Regions from separate parts of the Homo sapiens genome. Here region 2 is linked to region 1. Evidence: fine-mapped expression QTL. Tissue or cell type: whole blood. Region 1 holds a variant in brackets; the other region holds the start of a gene. All regions are shown on one strand. Distances are from middle to middle.

The links. PIP is the estimated chance that this variant, and not a neighbour inherited with it, causes the effect.
Region 2: CORO6 starts here. The variant in region 1 is fine-mapped to the expression of CORO6 in whole blood (TOPMed, PIP above 0.99).

Annotation. Positions count from the first base shown.
Region 1 is chr17:29,655,466-29,663,568 of GRCh38, forward strand. It overlaps SSH2 (slingshot protein phosphatase 2), which reads right to left. Exons shown (of 16, transcript NM_001282129.2): 12 at 96-142. Among named protein-coding and RNA genes, the nearest start is that of SSH2-AS1, 20 kb to the left of the region's middle. RefSeq lists an enhancer at 7,766-8,060 and a silencer at 7,766-8,060. The variant T/C (reference allele first, on the strand shown) is at 4,327.
Region 2 is chr17:29,619,583-29,627,685 of GRCh38, forward strand. It overlaps CORO6 (coronin 6), which reads right to left and starts at 3,330. Exons shown (of 11, transcript NM_032854.4): 1 at 3,106-3,330; 2 at 1,642-1,902; 3 at 69-191. The coding sequence starts at 1,839. It overlaps SSH2 (slingshot protein phosphatase 2), which reads right to left. Exons shown (of 16, transcript NM_001282129.2): 16 at 6,356-8,103. RefSeq lists enhancers at 729-1,023, 3,931-5,130 and a silencer at 2,994-3,143.

The DNA.
Region 1 (8,103 bases):
TAAAGTTACCCACTGATACCTCTTTGATGGGAAAATGAAGATAAAACAGGGACTTCTGTTACACAGGGGTGCCAGCTATTGCTTTGTGTGCTTACCCTCGGTTCTGTAAGTCCTCTAAGTTGGAGGCATTCCATTCTGAGCCCTATGGAGCCAAAAAGACAAGGTTAAGGAGTATTAGCAAATCAACCAAACAATACTTGAAAAGGAGCGAGAGAAGAAGAACTTTCAAAAAGAAGACTAATAACATCTACCAGTGCCCTTTAAGTTGCCAGGCACTTCATATGTTATCACATTTAGTTTTCACAAATGATAGAGTAAGAATGTTATTTTCATCTTCATTTTTACAGATACAAAAACCAACTCATAGAATTCAAATAATTTTTGCCCATGATCATACAGCAGGAGAGGTGTCTTTAACCATCATCCAATCTAAATTAGATGTCTTCTGTTATTCTTGCTCATAGTAATCTCCTATTTTCCTCAACAGCATGTATCACAATTTGTACCTATATATTTATTTATGTGCTTACTTTCTAACTACCTTTAATATAAGCTCCTAGAGGTCGGGAACCAGCTCTTTTCTTCCCTATGGAAACCCACGCACCTTGCACAGTGCCTGGCACCTGGCAGGTGCTCAATAAACATTTGCTGAATTTTTACAGATAACAAAAGCAGCATTATTATGCATTGAACTACACCTTATTCCAAAGCTCACACTCTTTTTTTTCTGAGACAGCGTCTTGCTCCATCACCCAGGCTGGAATGCAATGGCGTGATCTCGGTTCACTGCAACCTCTGCCTCCCGGGTTCCAGCAATTCTCCTGCCTCAGCCTCCTGAGTAGCTGGGATTACAGGTGCGCGCCACCATGCCCAGCTGATTTTTGTATTTTTTAGTAGAGGCAGGGTTTCACCATGCTGGTCATGCTGGTCTCAAACTCCTGACCTCGTGATCCACCCGCCTCAGCCTCCCAAAGTGCTGGGATTACAGGTGTGAGACACCGCGCAGGGCCGCTCACACTCTTTTTAGTGCATTAAGTTGCATCTAAGGAGTTAAAGGACAGAACTTGTGTGTGGCAGGAGAAGACACTGAAATAGCAGCTTCTGTCAAACAAATGAGGGAAACATTATATGTAAAATTTTAAGATAGGGATAAATGGCAAACTTTGGGGGAAGAGGTTCTGCTGATGATCTGGAGGACACAATTATTAATATTTTGCCATATTTGCTTTCTTTCCTTCTTTCCCTTTTCTTTTAGTACATATCATACTTTTTCCCCCTGAACCATCTGAGAGCATTTTGTGCACCATGACACTTTATTCAATACTTGAGCATGTATCATCTAAGAACATTTTCTTACATAATATGATCATACCAAAGAAATGTAACATTAACACAATAACCTGATACACTATACATATTTGAATTTCTACAAATGTCCCCAAAATGTCCTTTATATTTACTCAATCAAGGATAATTCTTCACATTTAGTTGTCATGTCTCTATCCTCTAGCTACACTTTTTTTTCTTTTGAGACAGAGTCACCCAGGCTACAGGGCAGTGGTATGATCCTGACTCACTGTAACCTCCACTGCCAGGGTTCAAGTGACTCTCCTGCCTCAGCCTCCTGAGTAGCTGGGATTATAGGCATGCATCACCATGCCCAGCTGATTTTTGTATTTTTAGTAGAGACAGGGTTTCACCATGTTGCCCAGGCTGGTCTTGAACTCCTGACCTCAAGTGATCCGCCTGCCTCGGCCTCCCAAAGTGCGGGGATTACAGGCGTGAGGCACTGTGCCCAGCCTACTTTCTTTTTTCTTTTTGAGACGGGAGTTTCACTCTTGTTGCCCAGGCTGGAGTGCAATGGCACAATCTCGGCTCACTGCAACCTCCTCCTCTGGGGTTCAAGCGATTCTCCTGCCTCAGCCACCCGAGTAGCTGGGATTACAGGTGCCTGCCACCATGCCCAGCTAATTTTTTGTATTTAGTAAAGACGAGATTTCACCATGTTGGTCAGGCTGGTCTCAAACTCCTGACCTCAGGTGATCCGCCTGCCTCGGCCTCCCAAAGGGCTGGGATTACAGGTGTGAGCCACTGTGCCCGGCTACTTTGTTTTTTTTTTTTTTTTTTTTTTTTAGAGACAGAGTCTTGCTCTGTTGCCTAGGCTGGAGTGCAGTGGCACACTGCAGCCTTGAACTCCTGGGCTCAAACCATCCTCCTGCCTCAGCCTCCCGAGTAGCTGAGACTACAGGTGGGCAGCACCATGCCTTGCTAATTTTTTTACTTTTGTTTCTTAGAGATGGGGTCTCACTATGTTGCCCAGGCTGGTCTCAAACTCTTGGCCTCAAGTGATCCTCCCCACCTTGGCCTCCCAAAATTTGGGATTGCAGGAGTGAACCACCACACCCAGCCTAGCTTTAATCTAGAACAGTACATCTTCTGCTTTCTTTGGGAGTGTGGGAGGGGGTCTTTCATAATATTGACATATCGACATTTTTGTAGACTCCACATCTGTTATCTTGGAGAATTCCCCACAATCTGTATTTTTTTTTTTTTTTTGAGACAGAGTTTCACTCTGTTGCCCAGGCTGGAGTGCAATGGCACAATCTCGGCTCACCGCAACCTCTGCCTCCTGGGTTCAACTGATTCTCCTTCCTCAGCCTCCTGAGTAGCTGGGATTACAGGTGCGCACCACCACACCCAGCTAGTTTTGGTATTTTTAGTAGAGATGGGGTTTCTCCATGTTGGTCAGGCTGGTCTCGAATTCATGACCTCATGATCTGCCCACCTCGGCCTCCCAAAGTGCTGGGATTACAGACAGGCATGAGCCATTGTGCCCAGCTGTATTTTCTTTTTTAAGAGGTGGGTCTCGTTATGATGCCCAGGCTGGAGCTCAGTGGCTATTCACAGGTGCTATCATTGTGCGCTATAGCCTTGAACTTCTGGCCTCAAGTGATCTTCCTGCCTCAGCCTCCTGAGTACCTGGGACTACAAGTGCATGCCACCATACCTGGCTTGTATTCAATTTTAGAGTGCTTTTTCTATTCTTTCCCATTTAATATTTTGGGCATACAAAACTTTTATGTGATTAAAAGTCAAAAGCTTATTAAAAAGTAAACTTAGAGGCTGGGTGCAGTGGCTCACGTCTGTAATCCCAACACTCTGGAGGCCGAGGCAGACGGATCACCTGAGGTTGGGAGTTACAGACCAGCCTGACCACCATGGAGAAACCCCGTCTCTACTAAAAATACAAAATTAGCCAGGTGTGGTGACGCATGCCTGTAATCATAGCTACTTGGGAGGCTGAGGCAGGAGAATCACTTGAACCTGGGAGGTGGAGGTTGTGGTGAGCCAAGATTGTGCCATTGCACTCCAGCCTGGGCAACAGAAGCGAAACTCCGTCTCAAAAAAAAAAAAAAAAAAAAAAAAAGTAAACTAAGAGGTCTCACTCTCACTCCTATCTCTTTAATTCCTATTGGTGACATTTTCATTAGTTTCTGATTTACTCTATTTTGAAAAAATATAAGCAAACATATGCTTATTGCTACTTCTTACTCATATTACCAATTCTTACTAATATGCTACACATAATTTTTTATTAATTGCTTTCATTTTACATATATTTCATTTTATATATCCTCAAAACCACTAAATGTAACAGTTCATAGAGATCTTATTTTTTCCTACATCTGCATAGTACTTCATGAGTACTGATATAATAGTTTATTCAACTAGTCTCCTATGAATGATATTTCTTATTTGTGGAAGCAGGTTTGCTAGGTCAAAGGCAGGATACACTTTTGTTAAACACTGCAAAATTTCCTTCCGTAGAGGCTGAAACAATTCTGTGGTCCCACCAGCAATGCATCAGAGCACCACTTTCCCCACAGCCTCTCCAATAAACTGTGGTTAAGCTTTTGAATTTTTGCCAGTCTGATAGGTGTCTCAGTGTAGTTTCAATTTGCATTTCTCTTAGAAGTAAAAGTGAGCAACTTTTCATTGTTTAAGATCTATTTTCTATCTTTGAGCTATCTGTTCATATCTTCTGAAAAGGCAGACATTTTATTTTATTTTATTTTTGAGACGAGACTTGCTCTGTCACCTAGGCTGGAGTGCAGTGGCACCATCTCGGATCACTGCAAGCTCCACCTCCCGGGTTCATGCCATTCTCCTGCCTCAGCTTCTCGAGTAGCTGGGACTACAGGCGCATGCCACCATGCCCGGCTAATTTTGTTTTTTGTATTTTTAGTAGAGACGGGGTTTCACCGTGTTAGCCAGGATGGTCTAGATCTCCTGACCTTGTGATCTGCCTGCCTTGGCCTCCCAAAG[T/C]GCTGGGATTACAGGCGTGAGCCACTGCGCCTGGCCAGACATTTTATATATATTTTTTGAGACGGAGTCTCGCTCTATCGCCAAGGTGGAGTGCAGTGACGTGATCTTGGCTCACTGCAATCTCCACCTCCTGGGTTCAAGTGATTCTTCTGCCTCAGCCTCCCGAGTAGCTGGGATTACAGGCACGCACCATCATACCCAGCTAATTTTTGTATTTTTAGTAGAGATGGGTTTCACCATGTTGGCCAGGATGGTCTCAATTTCCTGACCTCGTGATCTGCCTGCCTTGGCCTCCCAAAGTGCTGGGATTACAGGCGTGAGCCACCACGCCTGGTCAGGGCAGACATTTTATAATAAGAGTTTACTCTTTCAGAATTAGAGGCATTAATGGAATTTAGCATTAGAAGACTTAGGTTCAAGTTCTGACTGCCCTTCCTACTGTGGGTGGGGACATTAGGGCCAACTGCCTAACCTCTCCTTTTTTTTTTTTTTTTAGATTGCAGTCTCGCTCTGTCGCCAGGCTGGAGTGCAGTGGTGCAATCTCAGCTCACCGCAACCTCTGCCTCCCAGGTTCAAGCGATTCTCCTGCCTCAGCCTCCCGAGTAGCTGGGACTACAGGTGTGCGCCACCACATTCAGCTAATTTTTGTATTTTTAGTAGAGATGGAGTTTCACCATGTTGGCTAGGATGGTGTCCATCTCTTGACCTTGTGATCTGCCCGCTTCAGCCTCCCAAAGTGTTGGGATTACAGGCATGAGCCACTGTGCCTGGCCAACCTCTCTGTCTTTATCTGTAAAATGAAAACCCCTTCCCACCCCAGTAGTATATATTTAATGGGTACATTTCCCTCAAATTATACATGCAAAGTTTTTCCCATATTAAAATGGAAAACCCCTCTCTCTCTCATAAATCCTCCTGCAGACTCTGTCCTTTCTCCCTTTCCTTCATGACTTCATAGAAATAAAGTCAAATACTCACTTTCTGGATGGGTGCAGTGGCTCATGCCTGTAGTCCTAGCACTTTGGGAGGCTGAGGTGGGCAGATCACCTGAGGTCAGGAGTTTGAGACCAGCCTGGCCAACATGGTGAAACTCCAACTTTACTAAAAATACAAAAATTAGCCTGGTATGGTGGTGCGTGCGTGCCTGTAATCCCAGCTACTTGGGCGGCTGAGGTATGAGAATCACTTGAACCCAAGAGGCAGAGGTTGCAGTGAGCCGAGATAGCACCATTGCACTCCAGCCTGGGCAAAAAGAGTGAAATTCCATCTCAAAAAAAAAAAAAAAAAAAAAGAAAAGCAAATACTCATTTTCTCTATTTCCTCATTTCCCACGTATCTCATCCATAGCACTTGGGCCTCTGCCCTCATCACTCTCGCTGATGTTACTAATGACCTCTCCTAATTGTCTTATCACCACTGTATCCTTATTCCATTGGCCTTCTCTGAGTATCTATCTGATATGGCTCATCATGCTCTCCTTCTAGAATTAGATCAGACTGTACAAATACCTAGTCTCATACCTCACACAATAAAGAGGATAGACAAACGTTTGTTAATTGGAAGATCAAATGTGACCAGTAAATGAAGCACTGTGAAAATTGTTAAGTGTTGTGTAAGTACTATCATATTACAGGTGATCTGTAATCTGGCCGTTGAACTGGGAAAGCTCAAGGACACTGTGCTGAAGTTCCATTTAGGAAAAGGTCAGTGGTGATGTACAGGCAAGAGCCCTGCTGGCTTGTTTTAAAAAAATATGGGAGGCTCTGAAGGCTCTGCTCAACCTTAGAAAACAAGCTTCTGCACCAAAGAAATAGCCAAGAACTACAAAGGACTTCAAGGAGACAGATGCCAAACAATAGGGGCTGAGAAGTTAAACTGGAGCCAGCGAAATGTGACCACCTCACTTCTTAATTTAGAAATCTAAATCCTTCGTGGAACTCTGTCCAGTTAGATGAAAATAACATTGACACGATGGATAAAGTCCCTAGTTTTCATCTACCTGTCCAGAGAGAGTTCAACCTGACAATGTGAAGTGATACCTATCCATTGGCAAATAAATTAAAGGCACTGGTTACTGACTCACTGAAGCCCATACAAAGGGACTTGGGCTACACTTAGGGCTGCTTCAGGTTCAGTTTGAAAGACCTAGAGACCACTTGGTATAATTACTTTTCTGTACTCAATACAAATGCCATGTATATTAGACTTCCGGGGCTCTTTGCAGACCCAATTTCCCCCCCGCCCATGCTTCATAGGCTTATGGTGACGTAATTCTACCAGGGTTTCCATTATGTTCTATGTAATTATGCAAAGCATATTCTAATTTTACTGAAGTGTAAAATGAAACCTTTGGACTATAATACATTTTAAAGTAAGTTCATTTCCATCTTTTACTCTGGTTCCCTTGCACTGTACGCTGGCCCAAAGACCCAAGTAACTGATTTCTTTTCATGCTATCCTCAGGAAATAGCCTTGCTGGAGTCCAAATGTCCAAGGAAAATAGAAGACTACAGCACATTTATAGCAAATAAGGACTGTACTGTGGGAGTTCTGCTAAGATAAATATAACTTGACATAATATCCAAGGACTGGTATCTCTGTCCATATTTTATCATATCATTCCTATAGCCTCAATACTGTAAGTCACATTACTGTGGCAACCAGGCATAAGCTGTTTATTAACTTTTCCTTCTAAGAGAAATTTATGCCACACCTCCTGAATTTATCACATTCAGGGACAAAAATCATGAATGTGATAAAATAATCCTTTCTATTACTGTCTCACCTATTTACACACCCTCTGTTTCTCTTCATCTACATTAAAAGTAACCAATTTGAGGATTTTTTTTTAACTTTTAAGTTCAGGGGTACATATGCAGGTTTGTTACATAGGTAAACTTGTGTCATGGGGGTTTGTTGTACAGATTATTTCATCACCCAGGTATTAAGCCTAGTACTCATTAGCTATTTTTTCCTGATCCTCTCCCTAGGCTGAATTTTTTTATGAAAAGGAAACACTTTCCCAAAAGATGTCAAATCTTGTAATGTCAAATCTTGAAAAAGATAATCAGCAGTAAAAGTTCTATTTTTCAAATTCATGAGCAAAATTATTGGTTATGTGTCCAATATACTTGTTTGCCTGCTTTTCTGCAAAGGGTCTCTATCAACATCTAGCTTTTTCTCAGCCAAATCGGACAGCCTCCAGGAGAGCTGATGATACTGAAACTTAGTTGGGCAAAGGCTTCCAGCTCAGAGAAGTGATATGCTTGTAAGGGTGTAGAATCTCTTTTTCTAGAAACACCCTGGCTTCCCACCAATCAATTCTCTCTTCTCAATGCAGCTTTTATTTAAGCTATAATCTACACTTTCCCACTCCATACCAGCTGGATACTTTCCCTAATAAACAGATCTCTGTGCAGTACACTGCAGAACTGAGCATTCTTCCAAAGGGAAGGAGAAATCCTGTTGCCTCTCTTTACTCAATCTGGTTGAGCTCCAGGCATGGCAGCTATGCAAGATGAGATGACTCTGCAGAAAATCAACACCACCACTTGCAGCTAGAATGCCTCTTTTTCCGTGTCAACTGCTAGGAAAGCCAGCAGGGCAAAGACTCAATGGAGAAGAGATAGGGAGTTGGACATAGGATATGGCAGTGTAAACAAAGGGAGGAAGCCACCAAGGAACAAGTATAATAAGATGTTTAGACAACCTGTTCATGCATTTACTTTGTTAAGTAGGATTTAAATTACAGAGATCCTCAATTTTGAAGTTTTTTTT
Region 2 (8,103 bases), 36 kb before region 1:
CAGCACAGGTGAGGCAGCCTTCCCTGCTCCCCTGCTCAACTGCCCAGCAGTAGCCACCTGGCTCCTACCATGATGGTGGTGTCGTCTGAGGCACTGGCGATAACGTTGTCATTGTGTGGACACCAGTCAATATCCAGCACAGGGGCAGTGTGCCCAGTGACCAGTGGGTAGTTCTTATCCACTCGCCCTGTCTGAGGGGTTGGAGAAGAAGATGTGGGGCTACTCTCCTGTGTGTTTTTTGGGGAGTGGGTAGCAGATCTGCTTACATCTCGATTCCTTATTACCTATTTTCTCTTTGCAGATCCCTCTCTGCACTTCTAACCCCATCCAGTCCACTTCCTGCACTTTACTGAAGGCAGAGTTGAAATAATTTAATATTAGGGACTGTGACACAGAGAGGTAAGATGGCCTCATCAAGGACACACAACAAGATACTTGTAGAGCTGAGATTTGAACTTTCCAGCCCAGTGCTCTTCCAAAGACACCTACTTGGAGGAGGCTGTTCTTCAGCCTGTTCTCCTATTGAAGTGTCTGTGGGAATCTCCTGGTGGAAGAGGTCAAGGTGAGATAATAGTGTAGTGCTGGACAGCCCTTTCCTGGCCTCCCTTGGCAGATCTCTTCCTTGTGAACCACTTTTACCTTGGAACCACAAGCAGCAAGCAGTCCTGGTGCCTACTATCCCCAAATGGGAGCTGGGGGCCCATCTATTTTTTGGTCTTCACAGGCTGCTTGTGGGGGTTCTGAGACCTCTGCAGGGGCAGACACTGGTCCAGACCAGGCAGCGGGGGAGAGGGTGGCTATGTGGTACTGAAAGAGCAGACATATTGGGGGAGGAGGCAGCTCCGGCTGAAATTTGAGCCCTGGGGCTGTGTCCCAGGATGATGTCTGCATTGTCTGGGGTGAGTCACTGGCTTTTTCAGGCCTCTTCCTGACCCCGCCACCTGTGGAGCCTACCCTAACAAGGTGTAGGGGCCAGAATCCAGGTCAAGGTCATACCTTGGGGGTTGGGGGAGAGTCATCCTTGGGATGTGGATGGTCAAGGGGCTTAAGGTTATGAAGCTAACGTGGTAGTCATTGCCTGGTCCCCATCCTGAGGGTAGGGAGGGCTCTGGCTTTATGTGTCATGTCCCCCTTCCTTTCCGTTCCCTTTCTTTCTACTTCACTGCAAGTGTCCTTGGAGGTAACCAGGGACTCTTTGGATAGAGCCTGACCCTGTCCTCAGTTTGCTGCTCTGGGATGTGACTTAATCAAATGGTCATCTTGGGCTAGGGAGGAGGTTCTCCACACCCAAAACATGAGGGGATGCGGCATTAGGAGAGGCAGTGATGGAATCTGGCCAGGCTTGGCTGTGCTGTGTCCCAACCATCTCCATCACCCGGCTCCCCTCCTGGTCCCTGCTGGGAATGGGGTGGTGCATGGAGAGGTGGGAGGGCTAGGGAGTGGGAGTAAGCCACCCTGATGTTAGGGTGGGGTGGGGTGGCCTCCCCTCTGGTCCTTGAGGGCTTGGGGAATAGGGAGGAGCCAATCCACACAGATGCTTCTCCTGACTATGGAATGGAACTAGGTGAGAACAAAGGCTCAGGAGTTCCCAGGGGCCCCAGCTAGTGTCCTCCCACTTGCTTCCTTTCCCTGATCCCTCACCTTGGCCAGAGGCAGGACGATGAAGGCACCCCCGCCTCCAGCCTCCACAATAATGGCCAGGAATTTGGGGTTGACGGCACAGAAGGAGCTGTCCCATGTGACCTTGGACACACGGATGTCCTCGTAGGCCTGGTCGGCCTTTGCTGCCTGCCCAAACACATGGCGGAACTTGCTTTGCCGAACCACACGTCTGCTCATAGCTGCAGGCAGAGAGGTAGGATCTCAGTGCCCAGAAATGCCTTTGGTCCTTAGTCCTGTGAGCTGCGGGAGGGAGGAGGAGTGGAGGGGTGGCTGATGAGAAGGGTTATGTGGTCAGGAGTCAGGTATAAATCCATATAGTGTCTGGTCCTAGAAGCAGGGAGCTTTCTTCAAGGTGGTCAAAGTATGGGAAAGTTATTTTGCTGTGTAAAATGCTGTTTAATGTAAGTGGCTAGGATTTGGGGCCTGAATTCTCCACAGAGACCCAGGCTGAGGGGATTGTGGAGCCTAACAGACTGAAAGCTTTCTGGACGTTGGAATGTTTTTGGGAGGAGCCTCAATGCCACACTGCCTGCACCCCCCGCCCCCACCACCGCCAGCCTTGATGAGCATCTCTTCACGGACGTGGTTGTAGCTCCCAGAGGCACCCTGTCCAGAAGCAGAAGACTTGACCATTGGATCTTGGCTTAAAGCCAGGTATGGGGCCAAGACTGCAGCCACCACAGGATACCGAACTCGCATCTCTGGAATAGTTCAGGCAGATGGGGTTTTGCCTTTTCCTAAAATTTTGCCAAGGGGGAAGTTCCTCCTGTCCACCAATCTGAGTCCTTTCTGCTACTGTTTTCATCCCATGCCTTGTGGGGGGACGGGTGGCAGCACAGAGTGAGGTGGATCCCTCTTCTCCCACTCCTTTCTGCACTGGCTTCTCCAGGAAGCCCTGATCATGGTCTTCTGGCTTTTGCCTACCATAGGCTTGTCCGGTTTCTCCTCTGGGTCCTCTGCCCTGGTTGGGCCTTCTTCCTAGTGAACTCTTCTAGGGGTGGGGTCTTCAACCCCATCCTCCACCCCTGCCCCCGCCACGGCCAAGCCAGATTTGCAGGGGTGGGGAGGGTGAGGTGCCTTTTCTCCAGCTAGGGTCTCCCTAGAGGACACACTGAGCACTCCCAAAGCCCCAGCCAGTGGCTCCTGCCCCACCCCAGCCCCAGCATCCGTGTGCCCTTCAAGGCGCGTCTGCGGCCCCGAGCCTGAGGCCCGGCCTCCCTGCACCCTTCTTCAGCCTGCTGCCCTGACACTGCGTTCTTGCGAGACGAGGTGTCTGCGCCCTCCGGGAGCGCTGGCTGCTGTCCGGCCAAATATAGACACCACGTCCTCCCCGCCCGAAACCGAATTTGGCGGCGCGGGGGGAGGAGGCGCAGACCTCTGCCCCTCAGGGACCCCGCCCGCTCCGCTGGCTGCGGTGACGGCCGGGTGTGGGGGGCTGGGTACCTGGTCCTGAGCGGGCTGCGGGGCGCTCACGCTGCGAATCCTCTGCGGAAGGGGCCCGAGTGCGTAGGGGGCCGAGGAAGGCTTCAGGGCGAAGGAGCCACCTCTCCGGGTGTCTGTAGTATCTGGGACCCGGGTGTCCAGCTCCGCACTCTGGCCGATCCTGCGGCTCTCTAGAGCCCGGCGCCGCTGCAGCCCCAGCTGCCGCTGCCATCAACCTAAGAGGGCGGGGCTAGCATAGGGGCGGGGCCAGAGCCCAAGTTGCCCCGCCCCCTCCAGCGGCGGGAAAGTCGAGCGACCCCGACTCCCCTCCCAGCTTCCGCCGGCCTCGGAGAACCATCGAAAATAAATGTGCAGCTGTGTGCTAGGTGCGCACGCTGCTTCCCTCCCTCCATGACTCCCGGGTAGGCTGGGGAGGCTCGGGTTCGCAGACCTAGAGCAGGACGCTTGGAGAGGGAACGGGCGAGGGGGCGTGCGCCCCTAGAGCGGGCAGCCGAGGGAGACCAGGTGCCTCCACCCGCATTCCAGCCTCAATCGCGCTCCCAATTTAGCTGTCCCGATCGGCCGGGACTGCGGGACTGCACTTCCAGGCCTCCCTGGGGGAAAGAGGCCCTAGAGAATGAGGACCCAGGCTGATCCTGATGTAGGGCAAGTGAGAGGGCACCCGACACAGGGTTGTGAATGTTAGTTATTGTTATGAATGGCAATAGCGATCATTTGAGAAACCTAAAATGCTGGCTGTGTGCTAGGCATTTCACCCCATTAGATGAGATTCCATGGAGCAGGGCAGGAAGCAGCTGAAAGAACAAGGGGAGGACCGAGTGTAAAGTGAACCCACCTTGACACTCCCTCCCCTCCCAGATGCAGGGGGAAGAGGCTAGCACCGGTCTCTAGTCACATTTTAGGGGTCAGAGAAGCCAACTCAGAGGCCAGACTCCTAATGTTTTCTGGGCCTTGTTTGAATTGGCGCCCGACTGTGTTCCAGGTAAGCTTCCCCCGTCTCCCCCAATATTCACAGAACTGAATGTTGACCGAGGTCAAGGAGATTAAAGATAACCTGATCAAAATACAGCCAGTGAAGACCAGCCAGTCCCGTAGCTCCAGTCTACCCAGTGTCTGCACATTGCCTGGATTTCTTCCCTTGGATCATAAGGGCATCTGGGGCCAGTTATTACTTCCCACCCTCCAGGGCACACCTGGGAGTGAGTGAATGGAACACAGCCTTCTGAAGGGCAGGAACCAGCACTGGGGAGGAAAGGGAGGGAAGGTGGTAGAAACCATGAAGGGCCCACGAGGCTCCTTTGTTTCTCAGGAAGAGTCCAGGTGGCTTGTAGGGACAGAATCAAATCAAGAGTCAGTGGCTTGTAGGGGAACAGAATAAAAAACTGTTACGAGTGCTCCAGAAATAACTCCTGGCGTAGGGGTGCTGGGGCAGGGTATGAGGGTATGTGAGTCATCTCTCTTTTACCTAAAGATTCCAGGCACATGATTAGGAGGAAAATACCTGAGTGACTCAGTTGCTCCTTTACAACAATAACCCATGCTTATGTGCTAGGCACTGGCACTAAGGGCTTTATACGTATTAATTTCATACTCTTAACAATCCTCTAGGCTGGTCGCGGGTGGCTAACGCCTGTAATCCCAGCACTTTGGGAGGCTGAGGCAGGTGGATCACCTGAGGTCAGGAGTTCGAGACCAGCCTGGCCAACATGGCAAAACCCCATCTCTACTAAAAATACAAAAATTTGCCAGGTGTGGTGATGCACACCTGTAATCCCAGCTACTCAGGAGGCTGAGACACGAGAATTGCTTGAACCTAGGAGGCAGAGGTTGCAGTGAGCTGAGATCATGCCACTGCCCTCCAGCCTGGGTGACAGAATGAGACTCTGTCTCAAATAAAACACACGCACAAAAAACCAAAAAACAATCCTCTAAGGTGGGTACTGTTGTTATCCCTATTTAACAGTTGAGGAAATGGAGCCACAAAGAGGTTAGGTGGCTTACCCATCACAACCTCAACTGGTAGTTGATGTAGCTATGATTCTTACCCACGTGGTCTGGCATCTGGTTCTTGCTTTTCAGCAGCATGCATTTCTGTCTCTCCCTGAAGGACAGTGCCACTTTATCTCACAAGTGCTGAGCTAAAACGTAACTGAGAGTTTATACTGTGTGGCACAGAGGAAAGGATGCCTGGAATGAATTAAAAAACTGGTTCCAGTCCTGGCTCAATCGCCATATTTTTACAGCTCTCTGAACAGGATTGGGTCAGATTCTTTCCAACTCTGCACCACTCCTTAGCAGAGTAGGGATTTTATGTGCTGCCTCCTCTGAAGTGGCATCTCCCCTACCCCCACCCTCCTTCTCTTTAAAGAGAACAGGAGACTCCCTTCTAGAGGGAAGCGCTTGGGACTAGGAAGCAGGAATCCTTCAATGCGTGCTCCCTTCAGTTCCATCATCTAGGAAGAGCAGTGCTTTCTGGGTACAGGGATTCAGATATTTGCTTGGGCCTGGCGTAGCTCAGCCCTGCCCTCTAGCCTTCTTCTGGCTGCCAAGGCCTGACAGAGCTGTGAGTGGGCAGAGTTAAGGCAGGAAGAACCAATCAGGGAGAGAAGCTACTTGGGCTTCGTGCCTCCCTTTTGAACTGTTAGCTCTGAACGGCAATCCATAGAAGACAGCCATGGATTTCATCTTTTAGGAAGCCATTTTCTGGATGAGGTAGCTCGCAACTTAGCCATGATTTGGTCCATCTGCTTTGGCTAGAAAACCAAGACTGAACTTATCTAGATTGGTCAGGGATCCCAGGGATCCTTAGAATATTTTGTGAAAGACCTTACCTTCACCGTCATGCACTCCAGCTAAAGACCAGCACTGTGCCCCTCCCACTTGATATGGATGATTCAGAATGAAGCAGGCTGACTTTAGTTCAAGGCAGTGATTTTTTTTTTTGAGGGGGGCGGGGACTTCAAATTTTGTTAGCAATTGGGAACTGGAAACTGAGCTCTCCCTAGATGGTAGTCCTGCCTTGTATGTGATGAATGGCACCACTAAATATCTCATGATGTTCATGTCCCATTTCTAGACATTTTTCAGTGGGCTGAGGTGTTTCATTTATTTCTGGGGACTCAGCTCTCTCTTCAGGGTGACATGACTGGGATCAATCATTGAAAACTACTGGTGTTCACTGTGTTTCCTCTTCTGACTCTCCCACCTTCTCCAGCACCTCCCTCCTTTGTTGCATCTGATGAAGTACACGTTTCATCTTCAAAATAAAAATTTATTCAATCTGTAACAAGAACATTGAATCTGCACATTTGCGCACAAGTTCACATTTAAAAACAGTGGAGCATATCTGTAATAAAAAAATCTATGATACAAGTGGAACATCCCAACCACCAGGAAGATTAAGGAAGGAGATGAGACCACTCTATATTCTGCTTCAAATGCCTCAAAAATGTCCCAGAGATTCCAGGGAGCACCTGCTTTAATAAAACATGAGCATAAAAGTTTGGGGTGGCTTGGGGCAAAGGTAACAGTCAGAGGAGAGTCTTCTGGACTTGTTTTCCATGTTAGAACAAGTCCTACAAAACAAAGCAGAAAGAAAAAAAAAAAAAAAGAAAAGTAAAGGCACCTTTAGATATGCCAAGCAAACCAAAATCCAACAGAACATAAAAATCAAACATTTCCCTGTGGGCTTACTGATTGGGAAGCACTTCAGGGCCAGTTACCCAGTTTTTAGTTTGGGTATTAGCTCTGCATGTGTACACAGGACGCTGCCACCAGCATTGCTTTGAGGACACAGACGGCAGCACCAGTCAAATGCCTCTTAAGGGATCTTCAAGGTGATTAAGGATGATTCCAGTTTAGAAATCCTATCCTAGACCTCTGGGGCACTGAGAAAATGAGGCTGGTTATCTTCTCATAGCAGGAGCCAGGGCCAGTCACCCTCCATTTCCAGGCTGGAAAAGTACAGAAGCACCTTGCAATAGCTCTTCATGACGTCAAGGGACCCCACACCCTGGGAGAAGGGTTAGGAGTGTGCAGCTTCCTGCTTTGGTGGCAGGCCTTTTCCTAATATGGGTGTCAGAGGAGTTGAGGCAGCAAATATGCTTGTGTCTAATACATGCCTTGATCTTTTAGTTTGGAAGGGAAAACAAAGTCCAAGATGCTTTTAAGTTGGATTGATGCTGAAACAGCTAAAATTTCATCTTATCCACCATCAAAAAGCAAAACAAAATTAAACAAAATGACACTAGCCATTCACCATTACAACCATCACTATAAGACACACCATCACTGAGGAAATGACAACTATTTCCATAGAGAGTGCTGGATGGGAGGGCAGGACACAGACGGAAGTCAGCTTCAGCGTATACCCACTTACTCACAAGGGCTGACCATGATGGCCCTGCTCTGCATGAGGACTCACAGGACAGCCAGGGCACTGATGCCTGCAGGACTGCATGGCCGACAAGATGATGCACATTTTAATATTCAAAATGTAAACAAAGTATCCACAAATAGTCCAAAAAAGCCAAAGAATGGCTTTACTTAAAAATTTTTAAATGCCCTTAAAAGTGACTTTTTGCATAATGCTTTCTTAAAAAAAGAACTCTCACAAAAACATTTTTACCAAACATGCCTAGATCACTTCAGAACTGAAATCCTCAGATGAAACAGGTGAACACTTCTGTGACCTGCTACATCTCAGAAGCTTCTCATAGGAAGCTTTGAGTTTACCCAACAGCATCTGTCTGGGGCCTGTGAGCAGAGTACCTCAGAGCCTGAGGCACTGAGATCTTCAGGCTGTCCTTGGAGCTCTGGGTAGTTTGCAAAATGAGAAAGAGGAACTATCAGTAGGGATAAAGACACAGAACAAGGAAATCCATAACCCTGTCTCAAGCCTCCTCAGAACCAGGAAAATACTAAAGATCCTGAAGAGACTAAGATGATAGGAATGATCCCAAACATTTAGAATCTGAAAGGCAACTAAAATGAGGAGAG